3 separate regions of the Homo sapiens genome follow, and regions 2 and 3 are each linked to region 1. The links come from fine-mapping of genetic effects on gene expression. A gene starts in region 1. Each other region holds a variant in brackets. All regions are shown on one strand. Distances are between the middles of the regions.

Evidence for each region.
Region 2: its variant is fine-mapped to the expression of ZNF518B in Th1/17 cells (Schmiedel 2018, PIP 0.90).
Region 3: its variant is fine-mapped to the expression of ZNF518B in whole blood (INTERVAL, PIP 0.98).

Annotation. Positions count from the first base shown.
Region 1 is chr4:10,450,691-10,461,615 of GRCh38, reverse strand. It overlaps ZNF518B (zinc finger protein 518B), which reads left to right and starts at 4,190. Exons shown (of 3, transcript NM_053042.3): 1 at 4,190-4,299; 2 at 6,628-6,811. RefSeq lists silencers at 95-264, 4,075-4,714 and enhancers at 4,845-5,004, 4,267-5,082, 5,065-5,124.
Region 2 is chr4:10,483,775-10,494,699 of GRCh38, reverse strand. It overlaps CLNK (cytokine dependent hematopoietic cell linker), which reads left to right. Exons shown (of 19, transcript NM_052964.4): 19 at 4,087-8,305. The coding sequence ends at 4,233. LOC105374482 (a long non-coding RNA gene) reads right to left here and starts at 5,587. Exons shown (of 3, transcript XR_925387.4): 1 at 5,505-5,587. The variant A/G (reference allele first, on the strand shown) is at 5,647.
Region 3 is chr4:9,989,196-10,000,120 of GRCh38, reverse strand. SLC2A9 (solute carrier family 2 member 9) reads left to right here. Exons shown (of 12, transcript NM_020041.3): 3 at 3,180-3,340. It overlaps SLC2A9-AS1 (SLC2A9 antisense RNA 1), which reads right to left. Exons shown (of 4, transcript NR_183862.1): 2 at 6,747-6,866; 3 at 924-1,028. Among named protein-coding and RNA genes, the nearest start is that of SLC2A9-AS1, 6.5 kb to the right of the region's middle. The variant G/AAG (reference allele first, on the strand shown) is at 5,557.

The sequences.
Region 1 (10,925 bases):
GCAAATTGGAATGTAAAAACAAAACATTACATTCCCGATTTTCGGAAGCGCGGGGCGAGCGGGAGCGAAGACGCCCAGGTGAGCGCGGGGCTGCACCGCCCGCCGCGCGGGGTAGAGCTCTACACGCCGAGCTGGGCCAGCCGGGCTCGCAGCGACACTGCAGGCCGCGGGCGGTACTGCAGCGCAGCGCGGCCCGGCGCATCTCGAGGCTCTATCGGGCGCGCATGCTCAGCGCGCCGCTCGTGGCCCCACTAGCCTCACTGCGCGCTTCCGCGGCAGCCGCGGCGGCCGAGCTGAGTGTGCGGGCCAGGAGAGCCAAGAGAGTGGGCCTGCGCCGCAGGGCGGGAAAGGGCGGCTGGGACGTGGTCCCTGCCTTAGCCACGCTCCAGCGCCTGGCACCCTCCACGAAAGGTTGCTCCAGTTACTCCTGTTTTGCAGTTGAGAAAACGTCTCAGAGACTGGCAGTAACTTGGCCAAGGCCACACAGCTGGAAGGATGGCAAATGAGTTCGGGATTCGGGCTCTACATCCTTAACCTCCTGCACCCCAGGACTGTGAGGCGAGGTAAGCTTGAGAACCGGGGTTGTCTTATCAGAGCTTGGGGGGCCTTTATCCCTCCTTTACAGATGTGCAAACTGTGGCTCAAGGAAGTTACTAAAAACTTCTGAAATGTTTTAGAAGAAAAAAAAGCCACTTTCTGGGATCTCCTGTCCATGCATAAAGTTTTGAAGTGTCTGAGATTGACATGTCTGTGCTCTGACCTGGGTGTTAAAGACCTGGCCCTTTTCCAATGGACAGTGCTGTTTTTGTCAAGTCATATAATATTCGGGAGCGGTAGAGGCCAGAGAGAATATAAAAGTGGGTAATGAAGCATGGAAGGAAGTTCAGAGCAAGAGAAAGGATGATCATGGAAAGCTCGTGGAGGCCTTCCTCTGAGCCCCAAGCTCCCCACTGGCAGAATTTGATGAAGGGCTCTCTAAGATCAGAGTCTGTAGACGCCTAGAATGATCTAAATCCACACTGCCTTTCCTTTTCTTCCTCAAAAGCGCCCACCTCAGGGCCTTTGTACATGCTCTCCTCTCCCCTGTTCTCCATCTTCTTGTGGCAGCTTCCTACTCGTGGCTTACAGCTCATCTCCCAAGTCCCCGTCATTGCATTTGTAAGGCTCGTGGTCCAGAAATGAATGTTCCCTGAGGGCTGAGCCTTACCCTGTTCGTCATTCCTCTAGCCTCAGCACCAGCCTGTGCCTGCACTGAATGGGCATTCATACATGGTCGGTTTTTTTTTTTTTGGTTTTTTTTTTTTTTTTTTTGAGACAGAGTCTTGCCCTGTTGCCCATGCTGGAGTGCAGTGGCTCGTTCTTGGCTCACTACACCCTCCGTCTCTTGGGTTCAAGCAATTCTCGTGCCTCAGCCTCCTGAGTAGCTGGGATTACAGGCGCCCGCCACCACGCCCAGTTAATTTTTGTATTTTTAGTAGAGGCGGGGCTTCACCATGTTGGCCAGGCTGTTCTTGAACTCCTGACCTCAGGTGATCTGCCCGCCTCGGCCTCCCAAAGTGCTAGGATTACAGGCATGAGCTACTGCGCCCAGCCCAATACATGTTTTGTTGAATGCATGAGTGAATGAATGAACGTTGGCTCCCAAATCTTATACTCAAGGACTGGTTCATGTCTTCCTTCTTCTCTCCTACATTAGGTAGTCATAACTAGGAGGGTGCATTGATTTCTTAGGGTGGCTGTACCAAACAAACATGTATTGTCTCACAGTTCTGTCGGCTCAGAAGTCTGAAATCAAGGGGTCCACAGGGCCATGCTCCCTCTGAACCCTCTAGGGGAGGATCCTCCCTGCCTTTTCCATCTTCCAACAGCCGTTGGTTTGTGGCTGTGTACTCCAATCTCGGCCTCTGTCCATGGCTTCTTCTCCCTGTGTGTCTCCATGTCTTCTCATGGCATTTTCTTCTCTGCGTCTCTTCACAGAGACACAGAATGGTGTCCCTTGTAAGGACACCATTCACATTGGATAAGGGCCCACCCTAATGACCTTGTCTTACATCTGTAAAGACCGTGTTTCCAAATAAGGTCATATCCATAAGTTGGGGGTGGGGGATATTAGCGCTTCAACGTATTTTTCTGGGAAACATAATTCAACTCGTGACAGAAGTGATCCACGGAATTTAGGCAAACTAAGCTGGGGGGTGGAGAAGAAGACATGAAGGGCAGACGTGTAGGGAACGTGTGATGATTCACATTTGCAAGCATCAAAAGACTTTTAGGGACATCAGCCTTAAAGGTTTCTGCTGAAGTAGTTTCTATTTTTCCTTGACCCTTTTTCAGGCTGTAAACACTCCATTTCCAGACACTCCACAAAGCATTTCATCTCCCTGAATTTGGGCTACTGAAGAGTAAGTTAACAGTCACTTCTATCTGCCAGGGACTGTGATAAGTCCTGACTTGCTTTCTCTTGTTTAATGTTGACAACCCCCTTGGGAGGAAGGACCTATTTTTCACTGAATTTTACATGAGAAACTGAGGTTCAGACAGGCTCACAACTTCTATGTGGCCGAACTGGGATTTATAACCAGTTCTCACTTCAGAAAAACTCCCAGGAGACCCACAGGTACCTTACATCAATTCTGTGTGACTTAAGAGGGCAGAACTGTGATGCATGAGTAGAAGTTATAAGGAGAGTTGCCTCTCCTTATAAAGTTTAGGACAATTTTCTAATGTCTAGACCTCAGATTCTCCAATACTTAGAATTAATAGTTTTTCCTGATGTGGCTCTGTTTGCCACTAGAGATTTTCAGGCAGTGGCTCCTAGTTTGGATTCTCAATGCCTTTCCCAACTTGACCCTACTCTTGAGGGAGACTTTGAACTCTCTGGCATATTCTCTCTGATAGGTGCTATCTGCACATAAATGTGTTTTTCTGAGAAGAGGTTCCTTAGCTTTTCTGAGCCCTAGGAGATAGAAAACCAGGACCCTAGCAGCTCCCTGATCAGGACCGAGGTTAGGAGCACTGCAGCCTAGGGCAGGAAGAAGGATTTGCTCTCTGGGCTGCTATTTTCTCTGCCCAGCTCCTGATACTTTAGTGGTGGAGGTTTTGCCCAGCTGCTGGACTTGTGGCTGAGCCTGTCTTCTTCAACTCCGCTTCTCCGTGTGGCAGTACTGCCCAGGCCCACATCTCCTCCGTGCAGCATACTGGCCGCTGTCCGTGCACGCCGACCTTTGGCCGCCAACAGGAAGGTGATGGAAACCAGCCTTGCCCCGCCCCCGCCTCCAGAGCTTTGAAATAAACTTTAGCTGTTCATCCCGAAGAAACTGTACTTCCCAGTGACGCTGCTCCCATGCCTCAACCTGCCCCTGCTGGAGAGCTGTTTCACTTTGTGGGGAGTCACTGATTGTGCGGGACCTGGCAATATGGTCTTCTTCTTTCCTCTTAGAGGCTCTATTCTAAATATGTCTTCCTTCCGGACCGTAGATGCAGGTGTATCTAGAGGGCAGTTGGCTCGCCCAAAATAGCACCGAAGTCCAGGAGGCAGGAAAGAAACTCTGGCATTAAATGAGCTCACACCCTCTCCAGACTCCCACAGTCATTGTCCCCTCTGACCCTCGCAACGCCCAACTGCTAGAGGAGGCTTTGCGCCTCACATACGACCTTCCCCGTCTTCAGAAATGAAGACACTGAGAGAGGTCAGGGGACTTTCTCGCCAAGGTCCAGCAGCTAAGATGTAAAGGAGTAGGGAGAGTCAGGATTTGTACCCAGGACTTCAAGGCCATCTCCTTCACTGAAGCTCTCCAAGAAGACGAGTTTGGAGGCTGAGGACCTGAGCTCCTCTTCTCTCGCTTTCACTCACCCACTGCAGGACTGCAGGCTCCAGGGAGGCAGGCGCCAAGGCCGCCCTCCGCGGGACCCGGTACAAGGCAGGCGCCCCGGGATGGCAGACTGGGCCAGGACCGAAGCCGAATCCTTCTTTTGCCTGCGGCATGGCTAAATGTGGACCTCGCTCGCTACGGTGCGAACGTGTTGGGTCAAGCTCTAAGCCCAGAAGTGGGGCTCGGCTGGGTCTGAGGCTCCCCGCTCTGGACAGCTTAGAAGCCCGGCGGGGGCGGGCGCAGCCTTAGAGACCTCAGGCGCCGGCCTCGCTGGAGCCGCGCCGCCGCTTCACATTGCGCACGCGCGGGGCTGGCGCGGGCTCCGCCCCCCGGGTAGGGACCTACAGCGGGCGCGGCGCCGGCGGTCTGCGGCCGGCGGTGTAGACGCCCCTTCGCCGGGACCTGGCACCCGAATCCGGCCTGCCGGGTAAGTAGCTGAGCGGGAGGGCGAGGGCCCCCGGATCCGCGTGTACGTGACCGAAGCGCCAGCTGCGGCCGGGTCGTGGGGGCGCGCGGGGCGGGGGCCTGACGGGGCCAGGCCGGGGCGGGTCGAGCGGCCGCGGCCCCGCGTGCCCGCGCTGAGGGCTGGCGTCGTGGCAAGTGGCACCGGGTAGGCCGAACGCGGGCTCCGGCTGGTGGGCGTGGGGCACCGGCTGGGGTGGGGGCCCGGGCCGCGGCTTGGCGCGCGTTGAGCAGGTACGCGGGCCTGGCCTAGGGTCGGGGTCCGGCCCGGCGCCCCCAGCTCGCCTTTGTGCGCCGCGACCCCGCGGACTCGGCCGACGCGCCGGGGCGACCGAGGCGGGGGTGGCAGCGTCCCGCGGGGCCGTTCGTGTGGCGCCGCTGGCCCGGCCTGCGCTCCCCGCCCCCAGCGTTATGAAGGATGCCTCCTCCGAGGGCTCCTACCGTCCGCGCCGAGCAGGAAGTGTCGTCAGGAGGCCATTTTTAAAGCCTCCTGCGGGCCTCGGAGCTGAGCGTTGACGGTTTTGGTTTTCTTCGGTTGGAAGAACCCCGGCCTTCCCTCGCGGCGAGCGGGACGCGCCTGGGAGACGACGATGCGCCCGATGCACCTGGCCTCGTCCTCCGAGCGCCCAGGCTCAGGCGCGCTCGCCTCGGATGCTGCCTGCCATCGGGGGAGCGTGCCGACAATAAACTCGAAAACCAGCCTGGCATTGTCTTTCCTTGAGAGGGTCAGGGGTGGGCTCGTCCATCGAGGTCCTGCGCATCTTTTACGGGGGGCGAGGACATAGGAGGTTGAGAAGAGATGGTGAAGGTTTGAATTGTTCCAAATGCTGATGTCATTGTGGGACCTCCCCATACCGGCCTGCCCGTCTTATCTTGGTGTCTTTGGGGTTTGGGGCTCTGTAAAGCCAAGAAATTGCAGGGTTCAAAAGAATGAAAGTTTCTTAACCAGAAAGGAAAAGCCAAAAGAGCGAACGGGAGAAAACACTTAAGTCTTTATAAGTTGGGTAGTTAATGTATCCCGTTACAATACCTCTGACTTTAAAAATTGTAATAATGAACGATTTATCAACGTAACATTAAAAAAAAAAACTACAGAGCATTATGTCCTATTTAAAAGTACAAATCTACGTAGCTAAACTCTAATGTTGTGTTAGACTCTTTAAACCATCTTAAGTTTAGACTTGAAATCACCAAGAATTAAGACAAACCTGGGTCTCTAGAAGCTTGCAGTACTCTTCTACAGTAGAGCAGAGACTGAGGATGGGAATACATCTCTTTTCTCTCTCTTGAGTCACATATGCAAAGTTCAGCCCAGCATATGATGTCAGTACACAGCCAAGGGTTCAGAAAATATTGTTTTAGAAACCAATGTTATATACTGTTGTCTCTTTGAGTAGAATACAAATAGTTCTTTTTTAAAATTGTGTGATATTGATATCTTTAACTAGGATGCAATTTTTAAAAGTTACTTTCATCTTGGATCAAATTTAGCCTTCAAAAATAACACTTTTTTGCGTAGACAGTTTGCTATGCTGATAACATTCATTGCAAATGCAATTTGAAAAGAGCAGACAAAGGATGGCATTCCTTTATTTATTGGGACTCCTTTCTGATGTATTATACCCGATCTGAAGATCTTAAAAATGCAAAATGGCAATTAAAAAAATCCATTTAGATCTCTAGAGATTTATTTGCCTTTAAGTAAGGGCATCGGGGCCAGTTTTTGTGCAAAAGGAAGAACAAAGAACATTTTATTTTTGTCTCTGTGAAGCCTGCTCTTTCATTCATTCATTCACTCATTCTTTCAACCAGTACGAACCTTATTGAGTGCCTTCCTTGGCCAAACCCTTCGCTATTGATCATGATAAACAAGATCCTTACCAGGGAGGGTTTCCCCAATCATGATTGTTCTCAAACTGCCTGCTGTCTACTGCATTTTCTTTGTTATGCAAACTCAGCTAACTGCAATTTCCAGGATTCATCCTTGGAGTGAAAGCAGCTACAGATCAGCCAGTCTAAACATTGTCATCATAGGGTGAGGGTGGGGAGGCATCAAAATCAACTAGGGAGAATTTTAAACCATATGCCTGAGCCCCACCCTAGGAAATGGTAACCTGATCTGCTAGGTTGCATGTGAGTCCTGGGAATCCTTTTTAAGTTCCGTGGGTGACTTTGCCATACACCCCTGCTTGAGAACCACTTCTGGGGCTCATTCCCCTTATCTTCAACACTCTGAGAAACCAAGGCTGTGCCGGTCCAGGACTTAAACCCAAGTGTTTGGCTTCTGTTGCAGGCCTCTTTGTGCAGCGCCTTGCTGACGCCCAGGGTTCTGATGTAGAAGCCTACACCAGGGCCTGAGGTTGTGAAACTCATGGCAGTCCACGCCTGAGAAGAGAAGGCCTGAAAGAGAAGGAAGAGCCCATGGGACTTGCCACGGTTTTGACTTACATCTGCAACTCCAAGGCTACAGGCAGGAAGTAAGAACAGTGCTCAAGTGGCAGCAGATACTGACTATGGCTTCATTTCACAGCTTCACACAGCAGGGTAGCAGAAAACAAAGAATGTAAGATTGGACCCAGTTGCAGCTGTTCACCAACTCTGTGATCTTCAAAAAGCCATATAGCTTCTCCAGACCTGTTAATCAGGGAAGAAGCAGATAACTGAAGGCTGGCTTTGAGAAGTTTCGAGGTAACATAGGAACCTGCTCATGCAGGCACTCTTTCCATCTGACTTGGGCCAAGGTGCTCCGTGATTGACAAGCAGCCAGCCTCTGGGAGAGCACTCTGATCAGATCATTGATAGAACATTCACTACTCTACTTATCATACCCATTTACTTATCTCCATCTTCTGTTAGACTCCTTAAAAACAGCAGCCCACAGCAGGTGTGGGGATAAAACAGTCCTGGGCAGTGCTCATTGTACTCACACTATGCCAGGCACTGTGCCAGGAACATTCAAATTTCTAAGAATCTACAAAGTAGATACCTCATTATACATCTTACAGAGAGCATCATTGGTGTTTCCAAGGTCACAGGGCTAGGCAAGGGTGGAACCCTGAGTCTGCTTGTCTGTTTGCCCCATGACAGCCCAGGGGTGGTGGCCTCACCCCACCTCCAGGCACCCACAAGAATATAAAATCTTGTACAAGGATGTCGATATTACTATTGCCATTCCCAAGTGCACCTGCACCTGTAGTATCAGGTGGTTTGCAGCCTTGGCTGCATAGCTGCATATGAGAATCACCTGGGAAGCTTTTAAAGATCCCAGTATCCCCACCTCTTCCCCAGTTACAGTGGAGTCTTGCGGGTGGTGGGGGACATCATTATTTTTGAAGCTTCCAAGTAATTCTGGTGTGCAGTGGGGTGACCAGCTGTCCCAGGGACCTCCTTTAAAAAATAATATCCCGGGCACATGACAGGCCAATTGCCCTAATGCAACCAAGGTTAAGAACTACTGGTTTAATGGGAGATATTTTTTCTGTGCTTGATTATACTGTTTTATTAAACTCTGAATCCATTTCTTTCTGCAAATTTTTAAGGCAAAAAAGAAATGTGAAAATATACGTCTCATTTTTAGCACCTTCAGAGACCCGGAGTCATTTGATGTGCTTCATGACATAAAATTTTGTAATATGCCGTGTGATACTACCTTATTTTTACCATATATGTATTTTTAATGCTTAACAAGAGCATATTTGCTCTTTCACATTTTTTTTTCACATACAAAGTTTTAGACATCAAGCACTCTAAATTCTTTTTTACAAATATTTTTTTCTTAAAATGTTAAGAAAAAGCCTATAATATCACTTCCTTTGTTTCCTGATGTAGACTCAGTTGATGTGCACAGCAGTGTCAAGTCAATCTCCAAAATACTCCCTGTAGACAGGGTGGGGAGAAGACCCTCACTTCCTGCCGACTAATGAACTCATGTTGATACAGACCTTTGCCTCATCAGATTCATTTGTTAAGCTAACCAGTGTCTGCTTCTCTGGACATTACTGGACTCTTCTACCTGTGAAGCCATCTTAAAAAAATATATTGACTGATTTCTTAACGAAACATCTACTCTTTGCCAAGCATAAAGTTACCTCCCACTTGCATACACCCTTTTCTCATTTGTCCTCACATCAGCTGTATAAATGAGAAATATTCACATTTTATAAGTGAGAACATTCAGGCTCAGATAGGTTAACAAGTTTGAAATCATGTGCTAGTAAACCAAACACCTAGGTTTTGAACCTTGTTCTTCTTGTCCCAAGGTCATTATTCTCTACTGTGTTACACTCAGCTGCTTTCACCTGGAAAAGCAGAGGAATCAGGCTGTCTCCTGCAGCTGTCTTGGTCCATTCTGCTGCCCAAGCAGTACACTTGGTTTCAGATGGAAATCTAGGATCCCAAGCATGGGTACATTTGTCGGCAGCATTTGGAAGTATTTTTCGTCATCAGGATGGCAGTCAATTTGCAATTCAGTCATCTCAGTGCAAGGTAGTTTGGCAAAAAGATTATGACACTTAATGGATTTTTTTCCTCTTTTAAATCTGTTTACCCAGCATTTTGTAGTATAATGCAATGTAATAACATTGCATTATTTTGAGCATAGTTTAGAAGCCAAGAAGATGCTTTCAAACAGCTGACATAATTCAGTTATGGCCCAGATGTCCTGCCTTCCCCATCACACATTCATATTAATGGTCTTAGAAAGCTGTTTCTGAGGCAACAGTTTCTTCCTCAATATCATCCTACTGGGGAAATTTTGGCAGTTGATGTCTAATGTTGATTTTTTTTTCCTGATTGATTTTAATTGTTCACTGGGCACTTTGGGGTAGAATTGTTTTAAAAATTTGGTTACTGGGAAAGCTAGACAAGCCTTTGCTATGGTGAAAGAGACAGAAGGAATATAGATATAATTTGTAAGTGGTTATGCCATTGGGCTTAATGCTTTGCATACATTATCTAGTTTGCATCTCCTGATCGCCCTTTAAGTTTGCTTACGGTAAAGCATTATTCCTTGCTTGGCAATGCACAGAGAAAAATTATTTGCTGAAGGACCCTGCAAATGAGGGACAGGATCAGAGTTGGAACTGTAAACCCTGCCACTCCATTTCATGTGATCTTCATGGGTACAGCAGCTATACCCTGCCCCAGCAATGAGTATGGTAGAGCCACATTCAAAGGCGGACTTTGGGGTCAGCATTCCTGAAAAGAGCTGCTTAAGTTTGCTTCTACATCCAAAAACGATGCAGTCACAGTCAACTAACACTGAGCTTGCTGGGCATCTCCTGAACAGAAATGTATGTGGTGGTCCATGTAGCATGTATGCGATATAATTGGCCACCCACCTTTCCTTTTCACATTAACATTTATCACAGAAACACATTCATTTGCTACAGGGATATTTCACAATTTGGCTGAACTTTGAGAGAAGTGGGTGAGGAAAAGGTAGTTTCGTAACTAGTTTATATATAAACCTAAATTGTAGTGAGTACTCTTGTAAGTGGAGCATCTTTTCTATGGTAATTATAAATGGCTGTTAGCCCCTTTGCACTAAAGCTAGGTGGGTGGTTTTGCCACAGAGGTAAATTATCTTTCGGGCGGTATAACCAAACAAATAAAATATAAAGTGAGATTCAGGGCATGTTCTGAATACAGCAGTTAATTAGGCAGCTAAGAAAACTGTATTTTAGCCCCTCTGACTATGTGATTGGTATTTTTTTAAATTAAAAAATGGAAAATAATATTTTTAACAGGTTATGATATGTCAGTCATTTAATCCTCACAGTAACTCTGTGGGGTAGGTAGGTACTGTTTCTATCTCATTTTACAGGTAAGGAATCAAAACAGTGGGTATACCCAGGTTGTATATCTAGAAAGTGATAGAGCTGGGATTTTAAACTTTATAATCTGATTCCAGAATCTCTACCTTTAAACACTATGTTACCACTTACTTCTCTTCAAATTTTATTGAGCATTAGATGTTTCCAGTATTTAGAAGTCAAATGCTTCGTTTTTAATAGGAACTTACACAGTCTTTTATGTTTTTTTATAGCCCTCAATGTCACTGATGTGGATTCTCCCAAACTCGATACTTTGTTTGTTTTTATGTCCCCATAATAAGTCTTTAAGAAAACAGGGCAAGTGAGCTCAAAATCAAAAGAAAACCCACCAACAGTGAATGCATTCAGGGCTATTTCCAGGTCTTTCTTTTGAAGAAAGATAAGACTCAGTCCAGAGAGCACATCTGTGACACACCGTGCCTCTTGCCTTTGGTGCGTGGCAGTCATCTTTGGCTCATGCTGTACCTTATTCTACATTAGAAAACTCACTGTATGTTGCTAAATAATTTTTTGAAAACAGGCAGATTAATAAATGGACATCTTATTTATTGCACCATAAAATTAATGGTATTCTTTTCTGTGTTTTCGAGACCTTTCCTAAGCTATCTGAAAGTCCTAAGACGCCAAATGCAGAGGCTTTTGCAACAGATGTTGAGAGTTTGCACGGTAGGCAAACACTGACCCTGCTGTTAATAGTAATTTATTGAGTACCCTTTCAGTGCCAGCATACCCATGCACAGCTTTGTCTCCGGTGTCT
Region 2 (10,925 bases), 33 kb before region 1:
ATCACTTGAGGTCAAGAGTTCAAGACCAACCTGGTCAATATGATGAAACCCTGTCTCTACTAAAAACACGAAAAGTTAGCTGCGCGCCATGGCACATGCCTGTAATCCCAGCTACTTGGGAGGCTGAGGCAGGAGAATTGCTTGAATCTAGGAGGCAGAGGTTGCAGTGAGCCAAGATTGTGCCACTGCAATCCAGCCTGGGTGACAGAGTGAGACTCCATCTCAAAAAAAAAAAAAAAATAGGAAATACTGTGTGACTAGTTGCACCTGTCTTGCTGCCTACTACCTGTTAAAGTTACAATTTCATATGAAATGTCATCCATGTAGCAGATTATTAAAACAATTAATAGCAAATGTATTATTTTGGGACAATCTTAAAACAGGAATGATACTAGGACAAAGAAATCATCTTCCCTCTGAAGACTGAAACTAGGAAAGATTTCCTTTTTTGTGATGTGGATTTAACCAATTTTGTGAAAGAGTTCTGCATAAAAAGTTTTTTTGTGTGTGGTTGTTATTCACTTTTTGTTTTAGCAAGCATGAAGACAGAGAAAGAAAACTTTGTGCTTGGTTTAAAATTGGAAATGAAATACAGAAAATTCTTCTCTTCCTAAAGGCTTACAGTAATGGTCTACAAACTTCTTGGTGATTGCATTGCTCTCTCATGATGTTCTTGGCAAAGCTAGAAGGGAGGAGTTAATCATAAGGCCTGGCATGTGCTGAGCACTCACTGTGTGTCACACTTTCTTCTGAATGCTGTACTGCATATGCATCAATTCCATTCTCACAATGAATCTCAAAGTTAGGTCCTATCGTTACCATCACTGTTCATAGAATAACTGAGGCACAGAGAATGCAAGAAACTTGCTGACAGTCACACTGCTAGTGGTTGGGAGAGCCAGGCTTTGAACTCAGGCATTTAGGCTCCACAGGCCCTCTGGTTACAATTACCCTGCTGTAGTAGAGATTAATCTCCCCATTGGACAATGGGGAAAGTACCTTACCTTAGCATCAGGTAGAAACTCATATTTATTGTATACGTAATATGGGTGGTGGTGTAGTCTGAATGTTTGTATTCCTCCAAAATGTATGTGTTGAAATCCTAAGCCCTAAGGTGATGGTGTTAGGAGGTGAGGACTTTGGAAAGTGATTTGGTCTTGAAGGTGGAGCCCTCACAGATGAGATTCGTTCCCTTGTAAAAGAGTGCATTGCTCTTTGGACCATGTGAGGACACAGCATTAAGGCAAGAAAATGGGCCTCTCCAGACCCTGAATCTGCCAGTGCCTCGATCTTGGACTCCCCAGACTCCAGAAAGTGAGACATACATTTCTGCTGTTTCTAAGCTGCCAGGTTTATAGTACTTTTTGTTGTTGTTTGTTTTTTGAGATGAAGTCTCTTCTGTCTCCCAGGCTGGAGTGCAGTGCCGCCATCACAGCTCACTGCAACCTCCGCCTCCCAGGTTCAAGCGATTCTCCTGCCTCAGCCTCCCAAGTAGCTGGGATTACAGGCACATGCCACCATGCCCGGCTAATTTTTTATATTTTTGGTAGAGAGGGGATTTCACTATGTTGGCCAGGCTGGCCTCGAACTCCTGACCTTAAGTGTTCTGCCCACCTTGGCATCCCAAAGTGCTGGGATTACAGGCGTGAGCCACCACGCCTGGCCTAGTATTTTAACAGGCTGAACACACTAAGTCAGACTGACACATAGGTTATCTCATTGGAAACTGCTGCAGATCCAGTAAAGGTTTCAGAAGGACAAGGGACTTACAGATTGAACCAGGACTCTTTGGGTGTGAAAAGACAAACCCCAATTCAAATGAGCTCAGGCGGGAGAGAAGGAAATGTGTTGTAATGTAACCAGAAAGGACAGAAATGGACTCGATCCAGGGACTAGTTAACATCAAGACATTCCCACTCTACATTTCTTTCCCCACGTTTTTATCCCCAGCGTGGTGTCTGTTTGCTCTTCACACACCCCCTCCCCCCATCCCACATGACGGTGGGAAGGAGGAGATGACCCTGGAAGTCACAGGTTTATAGCGTTTTAATTGCTTTCTATTCAGTGCGCCTCTAACAGAAAAGAACGTTCCCTCCCAACAGCCCCGAGGGAAGCCTCTGAGCGACCTGGTGAAGTTCTTAAGCCTCAACGGACAATTTTCACAGCACATAGCTCTAAATGAAATTATTTGTTTGCATAGGAAATTATTTTCTGCCTGCTCCCAACAGAACGTCATCCCTGTGAGGTCCTAACTGGCCAATCTCATTCTCCATTGGCTATTCCTGAGGCCTTGCAACATTGCTGCACCTAGGATGCCCCGGACAGAGGAAGGAGTGGACAAAACCAAATCAGAGGCAGAGTAGCCCCCACACGGCTCCCTTTCTTCAGGCTATGTCATCTCTACCCTGGTTTGTTGGAGCATCAGAGGTCACAAGCTATAGGCAAAGCTGAAAAATAAAAAGAAGTATCCAGAAAAGTGAGCCTTCATTCCTGGTCTCATCCTCCCTAGCCATGGGAGACTCTGAGTAAGGCGGTCCACTTCTCTGAGCTGAAATTCCCTTCGCTCTTTAGGGAAGATCATTCCCCCTGCCCTGTTCACCTCACAGGCTTGCTAAGGAGGATCTAAGTTGTCTTGAAACATGGGAGGCAGGTTGAGCAAGCTCTTCCTAATTATCTCCCAATATACTCCTTCAGGAACTTATCCAAACTCACCTGATCAGAATTACTGTGTATGCAGAATGGACATTGAAGGCTCAGAGAGGGAGAGGGTGAGAAGGGGGCTAAGGGATGAAAAATCACCTACTGGGTACATACAATGTATATTATCTGGGTGATGGGTACACTAAAGCCCAAACTTCACCATTATACAATTCATCCATGTAACCAAAAGCCACTTATACCTCTAAAGCTGTTGAAATTAAAAAAAAAAATTACTATATATGCTCAAGTCTTCTCAATACCTGTCCTTATGCATGGTCCTGTACATTCTCTGCTTTTAATGTCTTTAAACCCTCCTGTCTACTTATCTGGAATGACCCATAACATAGCCCATTTCAAGTCTGTGTCCTTGACAAAGCACTTCCCCATTTCCCTAAACCTGAAATAATCTTACTTTCCGTTAAATTGTCATAACATTTTATCTGTGTATCTAGAAACACTGAAATCTGCAGCTACCTCATTATTTCACAAGAAGCTTAAGGAGGGCAGCTAAATTAGCTAAGCAGCCCCGTGGTTGTCCCTGTTCTTTCTATGTATACTAGAATTCCTTAGACTTCGTTACTGGAGGGCAAGCTCACTGCAGGCATTGCCCACCAATTTACTACATTCGAGCCTACATCTTCTATATTTTTGCTGGTCAGAGCTAAGGTTGAGGTTTGGGAGGCAACAGAGATTCCAAGGCTTGATTGCTGTGTAATTAACCCATCTGAGTCCTTAGGATAGAAAGGTTGTGATAACAATAGAATGGAACTTGACCAGTGTGATCTGATTCCAGAGAGGGGAAACTCCCTGTATAGGAAGTTTAAAGAGCTGCCATAGGGCTCACTTTTGGTTCTCTCAAGAATTTTTTTCTCTCTTGTTATCATTCTTATCACTCATCCTTCAAGCTTGCCATATTCTTTTTAAAAACTACTTCCGGTCAGGCGTGGTGGCTCATGCCTGTAATCCCAGCACTTTGGGATGCCGAGGCGGGTGGATCACCTGAGGTCAGGAGTTCGAGACCAGTCTGGCCAACATGGCGAAACCCTGTCTCTACTAAAAATACAAAAATTAGCTGGGCGTGGTGGCGCATGCTTGTAATCCCAGCTACTTGGGAGGCTGAGACAGGAGAATCACTTGAACACGGGAGGCGGAGGTTGCAGTGAGCCGAGATTGTGGCACTGCATTCCAGCCTGGGTGACAGAGCAAAACAACGTCTCAGAAAAAAACAAACAAACCAAAAACCACTTCCTGAAACACCTTTACCATACAAACATTGTTAAATTGGTTCACCTCTTCCCCATGCAAAATGAAGCACCTTGGCTATACTTTAACCTACAGACACAAAAGATATTTTAAAAGTCATTAACTTTCTTTTCTGTGTTTCAGAAGTTTGATTCAGTAGAAGACATCATCGAACACTACAAGAATTTTCCCATTATACTAATTGATGGGAAAGATAAAACTGGGGTCCACAGGAAACAGTGTCACCTCACTCAGCCACTCCCTCTCACCAGACACCTCTTGCCTCTGTAGCCTGGTCTTTGTGTTATCTTTGGTTTACTGGATTCAGCGCTTCCATTGTTTTCATTGATTTCAAAAGTTTATTTTCTGTGCCTTCAAGGGACAACTTTTTTAACTTTGGAGAAAAGAAAAACACTCTATAACAGAGAGTGGAAAATCACTCACGGTTTTGAAAGTTCAAACCACAGAGAAAATATTTATAACATGCAAAAAATAAAAACATTCTAGTAACTGGCCACTGGAAAATAAATAAAAATAAAAACTAGGGTTTTAAAAGTATCTTCTAAAAAACAACAACAAAAAATACTATAAACATAGCCATTATGCTCATGATACAGGCGAGCAGCAAAGGGCACCAGAAGCTGTTGCTTAAATGTTTGCAGTCAGTGCAAGACAAGTCTATGGGAAATTCCCAAATCTGTGCTCTTTACAGGACACTGCGCTGCCTTTATGTCAGTTGTTGGGCCTTACATATATACAATGTGTGGATGATTTCTTACACTAAAGATGCTGGGCTGGGTGCGGTGCCTCATGCCTGTAATCCCAGCACTTTGGGAGGCTGAGGTGGACAGATCACGAGGTCAGGAGATCAAGACCATCCTGGCTAACATGGTGAAACCCCATGTCTACTAAAAATACAAAAAATCAGCTGGGCGTGGTGGTGGGTGCCTGTAGTCCCAGCTACTCGGGAGGCTGAGGCAGGAGAATGGTGTGAACCCGGGAGGCGGAGCTTGCAGTGAGCCGAAATCGCGCCACTGCACTCCAATCCAGCCTGGGGACAGAGAGACTCCGTCTCAAAAAAAAAAAAAGGTGTTGGGTTGGTGAATATTAGCTCTCTTTTATTGTAATCCTAGAAATTCAAGTATAGGGAAGAAATGTGGTATGGAAAACCAGCAATTGTGAATGTCACCTTGAAGACAGAAACTGAAAATCCTCTGACTAGGGTGTGAAACGGTCATGGGACCAGCCTCCAGCATCATCTGCTTCAAGTAGCTTTAAGTCAAATGGAATTAACACATTCATAGTACAGAGCTCAGATTATATCCTACACTAGCCTTCAGGCAAGCATATGTCTGAGGGAAACTAAAAATTGTATTAACAATTCCAATTATGGACTTCCATTCAAAGACAGAGAAAAACTGTCCTCAAATTAGTGCTAATTCTTGCAGTAACGTTGCACAGGCCATGATATTATTCCCTGTAGAGGTTAAGAGGATTTAATTTTATTATTGTTTTACAATAAAGATGAGGAAACAGAGGCTCGAAGTAGCTATTGATCTTACTCAATATGAGAAGAGAGCCCAGATTGTAATCTGCTTTGCCTGGCTCCATGCAAGCTCATCTTCCCAGGTACATTCTCTGCGCTGTGACATTTTACAATCAAGTTGAAAAGCTAATTTAAAAAAAAAGAGAGAGAGAGAGAGA[A/G]AGATAGAAACAATTTGAAAATACAGATTTACCACCTTAAAATAAATAAACTCTTCTAGTGGGAATAAGCTTTTTTAAAAAACATACTGTCTGTCGAAAATAACAGTATATCATGATGTCAAATGCTACCAAAGCTTACAAAGGAAATTCATAGAGTATTTATGTAATTGTAGCATTGATGCAGAAAGAAAACCAAAAATAATTAAAAGGCAATAGAAGCAAATGAAAACAATAAAAACAATGTGCAGGATTATCTCTTTTGTAAGACAGCAGACAATGAGCTCTCTGGGAAAAGCTCTTAGCATCTACCCACTATCCAAATACCTGCTCAGGTGTTCTCCTTTCACAAGGTCAATGTGAAGTGATGCCTATAAGTTACATCAGGAGCATTTAATGAAGAAGCTATTTGTAAAGCTGGAACTTTTGAGACCCAGCTGAGCCTATCGTAGAGTATGCCTGCAGAGGATTACATAGAACCAAGAGACAAGAGTGTTTAAATTGGAGCTTGGATACGAAAGAACTCACTGGTCCGGTCAAAGCTAAAAGCTGTATGGTTGCTGGTCATTCTCTACTGGAATTCAACAAGCCAGGGACAGTATGGAAACAAGGACTTTACAGAAGAGCTCCAGGCTCACATTAAGAAGGAATCTGACCCTCACCCTAAAAAGCTATTGGGAGATTACTGATACCTCCAACTCACTGATTCATTGAGGCCATGCCATTCAATGCTATGTTCTCAAGAAATGTCTATGAGTCCTCTCAACCATTGCTGTTGATAAAATAGGTGAATGTCAAGTGGGGGTTAGCATTTGATAAGGTGTACGTTTGAAATAATATTTTATCGTCTCTTGTTCACAAATACAACATATAATTCCAAGAAGAAAAAAGAAGTAGAAATTCAGCATCCTTAAGATGACAGCAAGAATGAGGGGAAAAGGAAGAAAAAAAAGAAATTAAACATCTTGCAATAAAAAGCTTACAATATTTTTGTGTATTTGAACACTTCTGTAAAAAATATAAAATGGAAAATACTGACATGGGCTGCTTCTGGTGATTGGGGTTTGAGGGATTGGGTGTCGGGTTTTCTAGAACTCAGACACCAGGACAAAGTTAGAAGTGCAAACACTGATTGGAGGTTAATGTTTGAGAAAGATAAAAGGGAGAAGAAACAGAAGTATGGGTATGGGGTGGGCTTTCAGGCTCCCACCTGTGAGAGGGAAGAGGGGAGGTGTGGGGAGTGAGGAGAAAAAGCATGAGATTCAGACACAGCTCTGGGAGAGTTTTGGCCAGCTCATAGTGAGGCCCAAAGCAAAGTTTGCCCAGAGAGGAGACAGTGTTATGCTGGGCAGTAATGTCTGGGTCTTAGTGCCCCATCCTGTTAAGTCATTGTCTGGGGCTATCCTGGGAAAAAGAAAAACAACAAAAAAAAAAGACCTGCAAATGCTGTGGCCAATCCAGAAGGCGCAGCTGGACGCTGTCCACTAACTTGCTGGCCAGCAAGTTATTTCAATGGAGACTCAAGAGACCCACCTCTGGCCTGCCACAGCAACATCCTGAATTCACTGTTTTCAGTGTTGATTGTAGTAAGGACAATCACATTTACATTTTGCTTGTAATGGATGATTAAATAATAAGAGTATATAAATTCGATTGTATTTGTTTCTTACAACACTTCTGTAAAGAAGAGAGGGCAGCTATTTCTAATGCATTTTATAATTGAGGAAATTGTACCTCATTGGCCAAAATCTCACAGTGACATAGTCGCGACTGGAACCAAGGTCTCCATATGCAATTATCCTATTCATGGTCTACCTGCTTTATTAGATCTGTAATTGAATATTCAATGATTTGGATTTGGCATGCCCAAATTCCAGTGTTTTAATCCCTTTTCAACCATTACCTCACGTTTAGTTTAAAAGTATCACTTGATATCTGATTTCAATAGAGTAATAGAATTTTAGCTTTATCCAATTACAGCATTTATGCTTTCCAGATATTTTTTGGACTAAATAATTCTCATTCTGTATAAATGTGCATAGCCCTCATCATTAGTCATATATTGTGTTAGCACCTTTGTGTACTGCATGTGTATTCATTACTAAGCACTATTGTAGATGTTGAAAATAGAGCAGTGAATAAGAGAGATAGATGACAAATAAATATACAAACAAATAAGATAATCTAAGTCAGTTTCCCATTACTGGATTGGATTTCTATTTTAACACTTATTTCTGAGTACTTGTGGGGTGATGCCAACATTAAATGTTTTGAGGAAGCTCCTTTGAGATGGCTTTGAAAAGTCCTAAGTGAGAAAATTTAAAATTTTCCCAAACTTATTTATGTGGGGTGTGCATGTGTGTGCCTGTGCCTGTGTGCGTGTGTGTGTGTGTGTTTTTAAGTAACCGCATCATGGCTGTAATCAGTTAAGTCTCCTGTTCTAATTACTACGGAGGAATCAAATGAACCCCATTGTCGAATGTAGCCAATTATGTATGTGTGTACACAAATACAAATTTTTATGATAGCCTATATTGTATATTAGCATTATATTTGTATATCTTTTTTATTCTGAGCAATATTTGTTCTAGCTAAGCACATTTACATTCATAATTTACAGCCTTACTAATGTAAATAAAAGTAAATATGTAATTGAATGTTATAATTTTCTCTGTCTCTGAGTATTGAAGAAAGAAATTCAAAACATAGTTTAATTTTGTTTCATGCCCTATTACCCCTAAAGCTCTTTTGAAATTATATTTAGGGCAAATTTAGGATAAAATTACCAGAACAATTATTGACATATGAGCATTATGCTAGACTTTGGAGATAAAGACAAAAAAGACACAATCCCTGTGATTGTGAGCTCAGAGCCTGGCCGGAAAGATACACATGTAATAACCATCTTAATATGTGTAAGTTAATATCTCATTGTGGTTTTGATTTGCTTTTTCCCAATGATTAGTGAAATTGAGCACCTTTTCATATGCCTGTTGGCCATTATCAAAAAACAAAAGATAACAAATGTTGGCAAGAATGTGGACCAATGGAAACCCTGTACATTGTTGGTGGGAATGCCAAATGGTGCAGCCACTATGGAAAACAGTACTGGGTTTCCTTAAAAAATTAAAAATGGAACTATTATATTCAGCAATCCCACTTCTGTATATGTATCCAAAATAAATGAAATCAGGATCTTGAAAAGATATCTGCACACCCATATTCATTGCAGCATTATTCACAATTATTCCAAGATATGGAAACAACCTAAATGTCCATCAAAAATGAATAAATGGGCCAGGGATGGTGGCTCAGGTCTGTAATCCTAGCACTTTGGGAGGCCAAGGTGGGCAGATCACTTGAGGTCAGGAGTTCGAAACCAGCCTGGCCAACATGGTGAAACCCCGTCTCTACTAAAAATACAAAAAAAAAATCAGCTGGGCATGGTGGTGGGTGCTTGTGATCCCAGCTGCTCGGGAGGACGACACAGGAGAATCACTTGAGCTCGGGAGGTGGAGGTTGCAGTGAACTGAGATCATGCCACTGTACCCCAGCCTGGGAGACAGAGCAAGACACTGTCTCAAAAAAGAAAAAAAAAATGAATGAATCAATGAATGAACAAAATATGTTATATACATACAACGGAGTATTATTCAGCCTCAATAAAGAAGGAAATCTTGGCATATGTGACAAGGTGGATGAATCTGGAGGACATCATGCTAAGTGACATAGCCAGGCACAGAATGACAAATACTGCATGACTCCACTTATATGAGAAATCTGAAATAAACTCACAGGGACAGAGAATAGAATAGTTGTTGCCAGGAGCTGTGGGGAGAGGGAAATGGAGAGTTGTTGTTCAATGGGTATAAAGTTTCAGTTATACTAGGTGAATAAGTACTAGAGAGCTGCTGTATAGCATTGTGCCTATGGTCAACGAAAATGTATTACCTACTTAAAATTTTTTTAAGAATGTAGATTTCATGTTAATCATGTTAAGTGTTCTTACCACAAAAAGGGAGATGGGGCAGCAGGAAATGTTTGGAGGTGATAGATATGTTTATTGCCTTGAGTGTGATGATGGTGTTATGGATGTATGTGTATCTCGAAACTCATTAAATTAGATACATTAAATATGTCCAGTTTTTTAATATACCAATTATACCTCAATGAAGCTGTTTTATTTTTATTTTTATTTATTTTTTGTGAGACTGAGTCTCGCTCTGTCACCCAGGCTAGAGTACAGTGGCGCGATCTCGGCTCACTGCAAGCTCCGCATCCCGGGTTCACGCCATTCTCCTGCCTCAGGCTCCCAAGTAGCTGGGACTACAGGTGCCCACCACCGTGCCCAGCTAATTTTTTTTGTATTTTTAGTAGAGACAGGGTTTCACCATGTTGGCCAGGATGGTCTCAATCTCTTGACCTCGTGATCCACCCGCCTTGGCCTCCCAAAGTGCTGGGATTACAGGCATGAGCCACCGTGCCCTGCCATTTTTTTTTAAAGCTCATCAGCTATCATTAGTATTAGTGTATTTTACGTGTGGCCTAAGATGATTCTTCCAGTGTGGCCCAGGTAAGCCAAAAGATTGAACACTCTACTTCAGGAGTACAGGCATGTTGCCCATTATTGGGTACTCCTGTTTTAGGGGCACTATTCTAGGCCATGGGGAATGAAGCAGTGACTACCTGTTTGAAGGGTAAGTGAATACAATAGAAGCAGCATCTGTAGAGAAAGGACAGATAATTTATTAAGTGGTTCTGGTTAAACTGGCTCACCATATAGAAAAAATACAATTATGTCTCTACCTCAAATCATATAAAATATATTTTACATGAATCAAATACTTAAGAGCAAAAAGCAACTATTAAATTGAGTCTTACATCTTTGTCTAATAATTTTTAAGACTTTGAGATAGGGAAAGAGTTCTTAAGACAAAAACTTAAATCATCAAGGGAAGGATTGATAGATTCATTACACCAAAATTTAAAATGTTTACAAAAGTTAGACAAAGTCAAAAGGCAATTAAACAACCTAATATGTATGAGCAAAGGCTGTAAACAAGTAATTCATACACACTCACAAAGCTGGAATGTCTTAACTTATGCACTCCTGTAAGTTAAGAAAATTAATAACAATTAAGTACAATTAAGAAAATTAATAGGCCGGGAGCAGTGGCTCACGATTGTAATCCCGGCACTTTGGGAGGCCAAGGCGGGCGGAACATGAGTTCAGGAGATCAAGACCAGCCTGGCCAACTTGGTGAAACCCCGTCTCTACTAAA
Region 3 (10,925 bases), 460 kb after region 1:
CCAGAAAGAAAGAGAAAACAGAAAGAAGATAAATACCTCGCAAGCAGAGGGTGTCTCCCCTCCTCACCTCATTTCCTTCCATCAGACCATTTGCTTATGTCTGAAATCTGGGAGTTTTCTGTGATCTTCTTTCACTTTCTGCAACACCATCTGTTCTCAAACCTGGAGCCAATCACCCAGGAAGTCCTACCTATTCTACTCTCAAAATATATCTTAAATCCATCCACTTCTGTCCATTTCCATTGCTTAGTGAAGTCCACCATGATCTTTGGACCACTGCAGTGCCCCCCAAGTGTGCCTGGCTTCCTGTCTAGCTCCTCTTTCATCCACTTGCCAGAGGGATCCTCTGAAAATGCAAGCCACACCATGTCCTCCCCCTGCCAAAAACCCTCCAATACTTTCCCACTTCATCTAGAGTAGAATCCAAGTAAAAACCAGGCTAACTTCCATGACCTATCAGGCCCACATGACCTGCCCTTTCTTGCCCCTCCAACTTCATCCAGCCCACTCCTTCCCTTTCTGGTCCTGTTCCTCCCCTATTGGCCTCCTTGCAATTCCATGGCCACCCAAGCTTTCTTCTGTCCTGCTGTCTTGGCATAATTCTCCCTCTGCCTGGAACACTTTCCTACCATTTTTCTTTTCCATGTTAAATGGCAGCATGTATTATGCATACAAAAGAGTATATAAAATACACACATATGCATTATGCTTGTGTGCCCGTACACACACACACACACTTTAAAGACTGAGTATAAATCTAACACTCATGTCACAATCCAGGTTAAGAATAAAAGGTCTGGGGAGGCTGCAGCGGGAGGATCGCATGAGCCCAGGAGTTTGAGACCAGCCTTGGGGAACATGGCGAGACCTCCTTTGTACAAGAAACAAACAAAAAAAATTTATCCAGGCATAGTGGCACATACCTGTAGTCGTCTGTCTCAGCTACTCGGGAGGCTGAAGTACCAGGACCTCCTGACCCCAGGGGATCAAATCTGCAGTGAGCTGTGATCATGCCACTGCACTCCAGCCTGAAAAAAAAAAAAAGAAGGACCTACCAAGTGTCCCTCCCCAGTTATTTCTTCTGTCATCCCCCGAGATGACCCCTGACCTGACATTTGAAATAATTCTTTCTTTGTAGTTTTACCGTCTATATATAATTCTCCAAAAAATTTTAATTTGGCATACTTTTGGGTTTTACACATGGAATCAGACTGTGTATGTTTTGTTTTTGGCTGCTTTTGGTTGGTGTTATTTTTGCCAGGTTTTCCCATGTGTGTTTGGACAGAGCTGTATTCATTCATGTTTGTGGCTGTGATGTTTCATATGATGATGATTCTGCAATTTGTTTATTCCTGCTATCGACCATGGGCACCTGGGCTGTTTCTCGTCTGGAGTTATTATGTGCAATGCTGCCATGGACATCTGAGTACATATATCCTAGGGCTCCCCAGAAACAGTTTTTCAGGGGAGTTTTCTAGAAGTAGATTTGCTGAGTTGTAGGCTACAGGCATCTTCCATTTGACTAGCTGATGCCAAAGCTGTTTTCCAAGATGGCTGTACAAGTCAAACTCCTACCAGCAGACAACACACTGCTTGTCACTCCTCAGTCTTACCAGATCTTTTAATTTTTAGTCTATGTGGGATTGTGTAAGCTCCATTCAAGTACTGGCCACTGCTTCAAGCTCTCATTTGACCCTCACAACAGCCCTGAGAGGTCAATGTCATCATTCCCATTTTGCAGATAAGAAAACCAAGGTTCAGCTGATTTAAATCATTACCAAGTTGTGCTGGGATTTGAGCCCAGGTCTGAGCGACCTGAACCTAAGCTTTTTCTGCAGTGTCATATACTGGCTCAGCTGAGGTTTGCGGGCTCACGTTGGGTAGCAACAGGGAACTCTAAGTACCTTGGGGACTGAACTCTGTTTGGAGCTTAGTGCCATGGACCTCAGTCTTTGGTGTACATCAGAATCACCTAGTCCCTGTCCCAAACACACTGAATCAGAATTGGCAGCGATGAGACTCTAGTGAATGTGAAGTTGTATTTCCTTGTGGTCTCATTTCTCTGTTGACTAATGATGTCAGGCATTCTGTCATTAGCATACCAGTCATTTGTATTTTCTCTGGAGTCTGTTCAAATTTTTGCTCATTTTTAATTGTATCATTTGCCTCCTTTTTGACATGTTAGAGTTCTTTGTATATCGTAGATAGGATTTATTTGTAGTTCTATGTGTTGCAAATATGTTATCTCAGTCTATGGGTTGTCTTTTCATTTCTGAATGACGTCTTTGGAAGAGCAGAAGATGTTAATCTTGATTATATTCAAATGAGCATTTTTTTTTCTTTTATGGCTAGTTTTTTTGTGTGTGTTGCATTTTTGCCTATTTTTTTTTTGTTAGGTATGTGCCCCCCCACTTTTCTTTTGAGACAGGGTGTCACTCTGTCACCCAGGCTGGAGTGCAATGGCGCAATCTTGGCTCACTGCAACCTCCGTCTCCTGGGTCCAAGAGATTCTCATGCCTCAGCCTCCTGAGTAGCTGGGATTACAGGTGCATGCCACCACACCTGGCAAATTTTTGTATTTTTAGTAGAGACAGGGTTTCACCATCTTGGCCAGACTGATCTCGAACTCCTGGCCTCAAGTGACCCACCCATCTCAGCCTCCCAGAGTGCTGGGATTACAGGTGTGGGCCTCTGCGCCCACCCGGTATGTGCCCTTTAACACACCTCCACAGCAATGCTGCGGTGCACTAGAATTGGAGAAGCCCAGCTATGAAGCTCATCATAAGCTTGGGGTCAGATCTGAGTCCAGCTCCCAGGTTTAGCACTTACCTAGCAAGTCACTTTGTCTCCCTGAGCCTCAGTTTCCCTATCTCCAAAATGAGGTAAAAAGAGGAAACATTTTGTTACAAAAAAAGTACCTTGGGATAGGCAAAGATGCAAGAAACACAAAAAAACTAGCCATAAAAGAAAAAAAATGCTCATTTGAATATAATAAAGATTAACATCTTCTGCTCTTCCCAAAATTTGTTAGAAGAGGCCAATGAGATAAAGCTCAAACAAATTAGCAAAGTGCTATGCATGAAAATGCTCTGTACAAGCTGTTTTGTTTTGTACACTGGCTTGCTTCAAGCAGCAGGAGAGAACAGAAGGAAATAACATGGTTTGTTGTTTATTTTCAGTACATCAAGGCCTTTTACAATGAGTCATGGGAAAGAAGGCATGGACGTCCAATAGACCCAGACACTCTGACTTTGCTCTGGTCTGTGACTGTGTCCATATTCGCCATCGGTGGACTTGTGGGGACGTTAATTGTGAAGATGATTGGAAAGGTTCTTGGGAGGTCAGTAGGAGGCTGTCTCTATCTGGGGGTGCCCTCCATGTTCATAATATATCTGTGTCATTGTCAGGGTCCTGACAGGCAACAGAACTCCACTCAGGCAGTTCAACTGGAGAGATTCAAATGCCCAAAGGGGAAAGGGGAAGAAATCAGAGACCAAGGTCCAAAGATAACTGAAGCCATGGACTGCAGGCTGATGAGCAGCAGCAGAAGCGTATAGGGACTGGGCTGTGTCAGAGCCACAGCACCCACATGGGGGAGGAGCAGGGAAGAAATGCCCTGACCCCTCCCTCCTCCCACCCTCCATCCTGCTGCAGAGGTGCACACTGGTCACACCCATGTGAAAGCCAGTAAACCAGGAAGTCATGTTGCCATCCAGGAGATGCTCCCGGGGCATAGAGCAGAGCAGGGAGGGGAGGGGAATTGATCTGGGTGTTGGGGCAAATGGAAAACACAGTGCAGTGCCTTGGAAATTGTTCCACGTAAGTACATACAGATCTGCTTTTCCAGAAAATTGACTGCTTAGACAGTCTTCCACTATATGGCTGTCTCATCATTTATTTAGCCACACTCCCTGACTGAGAGACATTTAGGTCATTTCAGATCATTTACATTACAAATAAGGAAGCAGTGAGAATCAAAAACTTCATATCAGCCTTTCCTACCCAGGCCCTCTCCAATCAGCTCACTTGACCTTGTGAGCCTCATTCCTCACTTATTTTAGACAGGAATCCTTCTCTCAGAGCAGATTGACTTATCAATGAATCCCCACAAACAATGCTTTCTCTGTATTCTTGTTCATAACAACAGCATCCTGGGAGCCAGTGAGCAGTGTGTGGAAAGAGTAGAGCTTCTCCAAGTGATGGAGGAGTCGTCACATCAATCTGATGGGGCCAGAACATTCGTGTCTTAACTTGAATCATGTGTCTTCCACTTACTAGCTGTGTGCCCTTGGCCAAATCATTTAATTTATTTGAGCCTCAATTTTCTTATCTGTAAAATAGGGATGATAGTTTCTACCTGCAGGGAATGTTACAAGAGTTAGACCAAATGAATGGAAGGAGAATGGCCATGAGTTGTAGCTGAATAAATAAAAATTCTTGTCATTGACCACATTATTTGGCATTTCCCTCATCATCACCTTGACATCACTACCTAGTAAGTACTCGACTAACCTCCTTATTGCATTGACGTGAGTTGAAGAGGAGATTTATCAGACTCCAGAAAATCTCCTCAGACCATGGGATTACAGAAACCCGATTAAGAAGGAGCCCATTTCACAATCTGAAATGACCGAATCCTTTACATTCTTCCTCACAGCCCAACAAGGAGAAAACTAGAGTTGACGATGTTTCAAAGCAAGATTTCTAAAAGATGGGACAGGAAGCCACCCTGAAAACATCCAAGTGGTGCTTATGAGGGTCTGTGATACCTGTGAGGTAGGGGAGGTGCTGACATTTTCCTTGTCCCCAAGCCCACTTTCAGAGCAGTAATTAATGGGAATTCAGGGCCTGGAAATACAACTACTGCATGATGTAGTGAGAGATGCCATTGTCTGAGGTCCTTCAAGGTTCCAGCCACTCACACATTCTCTTGTTTAATTTTCTATCTGCTGTGGGGTCTGTAGATGGGGAATGGGAGGTTAGAGAGGTGAGGGCATCTGCACAAGCTTAGCTAGCTTGCACTGTGGCTGAGCTTAGGCTGGAATCATGATCTTTCCACTATGCCAAGCAGATCTTAGTTAGGGGCCAATTCCCAATGCTGGGAATGTACTGTAAAACCATGACTGTTTGACAACAGGCTGGCACTCAGATTGGCATCACTGGCCAGGGTCCCTGAGGCATGGTCACTAAGCCTCCTGCCCAAGCCAGACCCTGCCCATGGTCCTCTTGCTTGTCCTAGTGGGATGGAGTCACTCCCCATGCCCCAGGATCTGGCCTGTGATGTCTCCTTGCTTTATACCTGACCGTGGCATTTATACCCCAAGGCTGCTCCTCAAGGAGGCTCTGAACCCATGCAGATGGAATAGGAAAAGGAACACTAGAATCGGGTCAGAATGCCGTGGCTCAGCAAGTCCTGACTCTGCTGTGTATCAGGTGTGTTACAAGGGACTTTGACACCTCACTTCTCAGCCAGCATTATTCTTACCTATAAAATGAGGGCAATGAAAGTAGCTTTACTACCCTCACTGGCATGGCAACAAAAAAAAAAAAAAAAAA[G/AAG]GAAAAGGAAAGCAAAAGAGAAAACAACTTTGAAAATACCTTCAATCTCTAAGTAATGGAGGAGTCATAAAGAAGTGAGGATGCAGAAAAAGATCAGATCAAAGGATGTGTTGGTTGTTATGCCCCAAGCAGCTGCCAGTTTCCTTTTCATCATTATGAGAGTAAAAGTTGATTTGGGCTGAAGTTTCAGCTTGAAGAGCAACTCTGCTGGGGAGAAAAGGAGCAAAAATTGAAAAAGAAAGCTACCATCTATTGACCTCCTGCCTTGTCCTTGACATCCCATATATCATTTACTTCTTAAAACTCCATGTTTGCATCATTACCTGCACTTTTCAAATGATGAGTCCAAGACCCAGTGGTCAATTGGACCAAGGTTTCAAAATGGAGTTGAACTGAAGTTCAGATCTGCATGTGTTTGACCACAGGCCAACACTCTTCCTGTGACATGATGCTATTTGAAACGCCTTCCTGATGCTCTGTTATTCCTCTCCCATGGGGATTCTCAGGGAGGGAGAGGAAACTGCAATGGCAGCCTGGGAGGCCCAGTGGAAGGTGCTCAAAGGTATAGCTGGGGGAGACATTCCAGGGAAGTGGGGAAGAGTTCCGATGGGGCTGGTCACTGGCTGCTCCAGCAGTGGGGCTGTTCCTAGCTAGGGAATGTTGAGCTCGTTTGTGATTTCGGTGACAAAGGAGGGCAGGGAAGCAAAGGGGGCCAGGAAGAGTCTCTGGAGATGGGCCATACCACATGACCTGGGCCTCACACAGATGCAGGTTCCTCACCTCTTGGAGTCTCTGGCTGAGGGAATTCTCAGCGATCAAGAATTCTGGTTGAAGCTCAGTGACCCATTTAGCATCCTCTGTCCTCTGCTTGCATGACCATAGTGACAGGACCCTCCTTCCCTCATGAGACAGGACAGTGACTATGTTTGGTGTACAAACACTAGCTACGGGCCCAGCTTCAAGTCTGGGCTCCGATACACACAGCTATGTGTTTCTTAAACTCTTTCATCTTTACTTAGTTCACGATGACATGAAGATAAAGAATGGCCATGTCAGAGGGTTGTTGTGAAGATTAAATGAAATGGTGGATGTGAAGTGTTCATCCCTACAATTGACCCAGACTCTTCGCCCAGCCTTTGTTCACTAGTGTCATCATCATCAACATCATCATCATCTTCACCATCACCAACCTCATTGGCTTTATTTGAGACGGGTCATTCCATCACTTGACAGAGTCAATTGTGCATCTGTTCTTTCAATTGCACTGAAATTATTCTTCTTACACATATCATTGGATCTGGTTCTTCCGTCTGGAGCAAAGCAGAAAAAACATATAAGAAACTATAGGAAAACACACATGGGCTTTGAAATCTGATCCTGGGCCAGACTCTTGGACAAGCCACGTAACCATATTCATCTATCCAAACAAACATTTTTGAGCACCTACAAGGAGTAAGGTACTGTTTTTGGCACTGGGGCTTCAGTGAACAAGAAAGACACAACATCTGGGGCTTAAGGTGATGCTTGGGCAAAGGAGGCAGCCCCTGAGTAATTCATTATGTAAGTCTTTATGATTCTGAGCAGTGCTGTGCATGGATGGTAGAGATACAAGAGGCAGCTGCTATGCCCTTTAATTTTTAAATCTGTAAAGTGCAGATAAACAAACCCACCTGAGGGAGCAGCTATGAGGGTGGAACGAGATCAAATTTACAGTGTCTCATGTCACTAAGGAGGCTTTTTGAATGCCTGTGACAGGAACCCAAAGCAAACTGGCTGAAGCCCAAAAGGGAATTACTTGGCTCACAATAACTAAAATATAACTTGGTTGAATCCAGTGGCTCAGATGATAGCTTTTAAAAAATCCAAATCTGTCTCCACCTCTCAGCTCACCTTGCTTTGTGTTGGCTCCATTGTCAGGCAATCTCTCCCATGGAGGTATAAGATGGGCCCAGCTTGGTGGAAATTCTCCTTCCGATAGTTGTGATTAAAGTCCCAGGCATGAATCTCTTTGACTTGAGCGAGGTTGCATGCGTTCAAGGGTTCTCAACCAGAGGGCAATGTTGCCTCATCAGGGGACATTTGACAATGCCAGGAGATGTTTCTGGTTTTCATAACTCAAGGGTGCTACTAGCATCTAGGAGAAGCCAGGGATGCCTCTAAATATCCTACAATGCACGGGACAACCCCCACAGCAAAGAATTTTCCAGTTCCAAATGTGAATAGTGCCAAGGTTAGAAAATCCTGGCAAATAACATTCTAACACTCTGGATTAAGTGCTTTTAAAAAAGCACATCTTAAATGCCTTGAGAATGATGAGTGATTTTATGTTGACTGGCCAGGCCTGTACCACGCATCCACTCCTGAAGCCATGGTTAGGTGGAGACAGGCAGGAAGGTTTCTTGGTGGAAATTTGAGGAACTCCTCCCAGAAGAAGGATGGAGGTTCGGTGAGCACAAACAACAGGCATCCCATACATCACTCCAGGGAAATAGCAGGTTGTCAAAAGGACTATTTTTGCTTTCATCATTTTCTACTTCAACCCTTTAAAAGGCATCTGTATTTTATAGTAGTAGAAAATAACTGTGTCTCTCTAGGTGCCTGCTGGAGGAGCCTTCAGTGTATGTGGCAAGCATGCATTGGTTAGCCCAGGCTGCCATATCAGAATACCACAGATGGAGTGGCTTCAGCAAACAGACATTCATTTTCTCACAGTTCTGGAGGCTGGAAGGCCAAGATCAAAGTGTCGGCAGGTCTTTTCCTCCCGAGGCTTCTCTCCATGGCTTGCAGATGGCTGCTTTCTCGCTGTGTGCTCCCTGTGTGTGTGCATCCCTGGTGTCCCTTCCTCTTCTTACAAGGACACCAATCATCCCACATTAGGGCCGCTTCCTTGTGACCTCATTTTAGTTTAATTATCTCTTTAAAGGCCCTGTCCCCAAATGCAGTCACATTAGGGGTTAGGGCTTTAACAGGTGAGCCTTAAAAAAATCCAAATCTCTCTCTTTCTCCACCTCTCAGCTCAGCTTGTTTTTTGTTGGCTTCATTGTCAGGCAGTTTCTTCTGTGGAGGTGCAAGATGGCCCCAGCTTGATGGAAATTCTCCTTCCAATCATTGTAGTTAAAGTCCCAGGCATGAATCTCCTTGGCCCGAGCGAGGTTACATGCGTTCAAGGGTTCTCAACCAGGGGGCAGGAACATAGTTTAGTCCATGACTGAGCAACACACCGTGCTGCTGACAACCTCTTCTTTCAGGCTGGAATTGTCTCAGAAAGTCAATTGCCCAGAAGCAGAGCCTGAGGCAGGGATTGGGATGCACACATGGCTTGTGGAGGAAGGGCTCTTCAGGAGTAATCTTTAAGGTGGGGAAAGCAGAAAGCAGCAGGGGAAGGAGCCAGGCAAGGCTGCACTCCCTGGTCAAGTTTAGCCTCACTTGGGGGAGCTCTGGGGCATAATCACACCACAGAGTCACCCAACTTGAAGTAAGGGGGCTGCATCCACCCCTACCACTCATCTGTCACTCGCTGCAGGCAGCACTGGGAAAGGGGGATCCACCTTCAGAGCCAATGTCAATCTTCTGGAGAAGAGTCAACCCTGAGCCTTTAGAAGCCAGCATTCATTGAGCTGGGGGAATCCCTGAGGGGATAGGGAGATAACCAGCCAGCCAGGAAACCTGATCCTCAACCCTGCTTCTCCCAGCCTTAGAAGACTTGACTAGTCTTCTAAGCATAGTGAGAATGGCAAGAACTCTGGAAGAAGGAAACTTGGGTTCATGATGGGACATAAGGAGAAAGCCTGGGCATGGTAGATAAGACCAGAAGACTTCGGGACGGCAGGGTTCCAAAGTGTAAAACAAAGAGTCAACACATCCAAAACAAGAGGCTTCAATGGTACAAGCTGTCCCTGCATCACTGGTTTGTTTTATTATGGACACAACCCCTTTGGTATTACAGACGCATGAGCCGGGAAAGCAGGGTTAGAAATCATAAGAAATCTTCAACCCCATCCCCCACTGCCTAGGACATATCTACCAGAACTAAATATTGGCCTTCTCTGAGCTCACACAGGACTTTCAGTTCCCTGTGTTACGTCACTTGGCATTTTGGGTTGTACTCATTTCATTATGTTCCCGTCTCTTCCCTGATAAGGGAGCCCTTCAACGTAAGAACCATATGTATTTATGGCCCCTAGCACCCAACACAGCAGCTTGTACACAGCAGGCAAGCAGTAGACATTTGTTGGATAAATGGAAGGATGGGTGGAAAATGCTCGATGCTTGAATTTTTCTATCACATCTCCCCAGTGTGGCCATCCTTGCTTGCATCTAAGCATCCTTGTATGCTTGCACACTTTCCGTTCCCTCATCCGATTATTTACTCACCACATATCTGTTGAGTACTTTCTATGTGCCAAGCACTCAGGCATGAGCAAAGCTGCCAAAGTCCCTGTCCTCCTGAAGCATGCAGCCAAGCGGGGAGCACAGCCAAGTAACAAGCATGCAGACTGTGCCATTCGGCCTGTGACAAGGACCAATGTAGAAAACAGAGCAGCTCAAGGAGGTCAGAAGATGCTGGGGAGGGTGAAGAGCTCACCACTTTGTTCAGAGGATTCTCTAAAATGGTGACTTGTGCAGGGAGCACTGAAGGAAGCAAGGGAGTGAGCACGCTCATCCCTGGGAAATAGCTCTCCAAGCAGAGGAGGCAGCAGGTGCAAAAGCCCAGGGGCAAGAAGAGGCTCCACTTCTTTGAAGATGAGAGTGGAGGTCAGTGTAGAGATAATCATAGGAAGCTAGATGGGATATTTGGAGTCAGATCCTGAGGACTTTGCAGGCGAGGGTTGAGACTCTTCCTCTGAGCAAAATGGGAAGTCAGTGGAACGTTTTAAGAACTGATCTGACTTGCATTTGGAAAGGTGTGCTGTTATCAGGGGGTCTCAGAGCCTGGTTGGGAGAACCTTGCAATAGCGCAGGTGAGAGAGGACATGGTTTGCACCAGGGTTGGAAAACAAGGGAAGGCAGGTGTCTGGGCACAGATGCAGGTGCAGAAATACAAGCAGAGGGCATGTGGGAAGGGTCTCTTGGGATTGCCTCTGTGTTCTCAGTGAAAAAGAAAGCATGGTCATCAGCTGAGAATGATAAAAAGGGGATTTGAAGAGAGAGAGAAAACATATGAAATAGTCCTCTAGGAGAGAAGGGTGTTGGATGGACCAGGAATCTGTAGACTCAGTGCAGGGGAGCCTTAACCCTTCTTGAGGTTGGTGGTCATGAATTTCAGGTGAGAAAGGACAACACAGCCATATGTTTTTCTCCAGCCAAGCTGAGCTTTGTAGATGCCCAGTAGACAGAGATTTAACCAGCTGGGGTTTTGCCAGGCATAT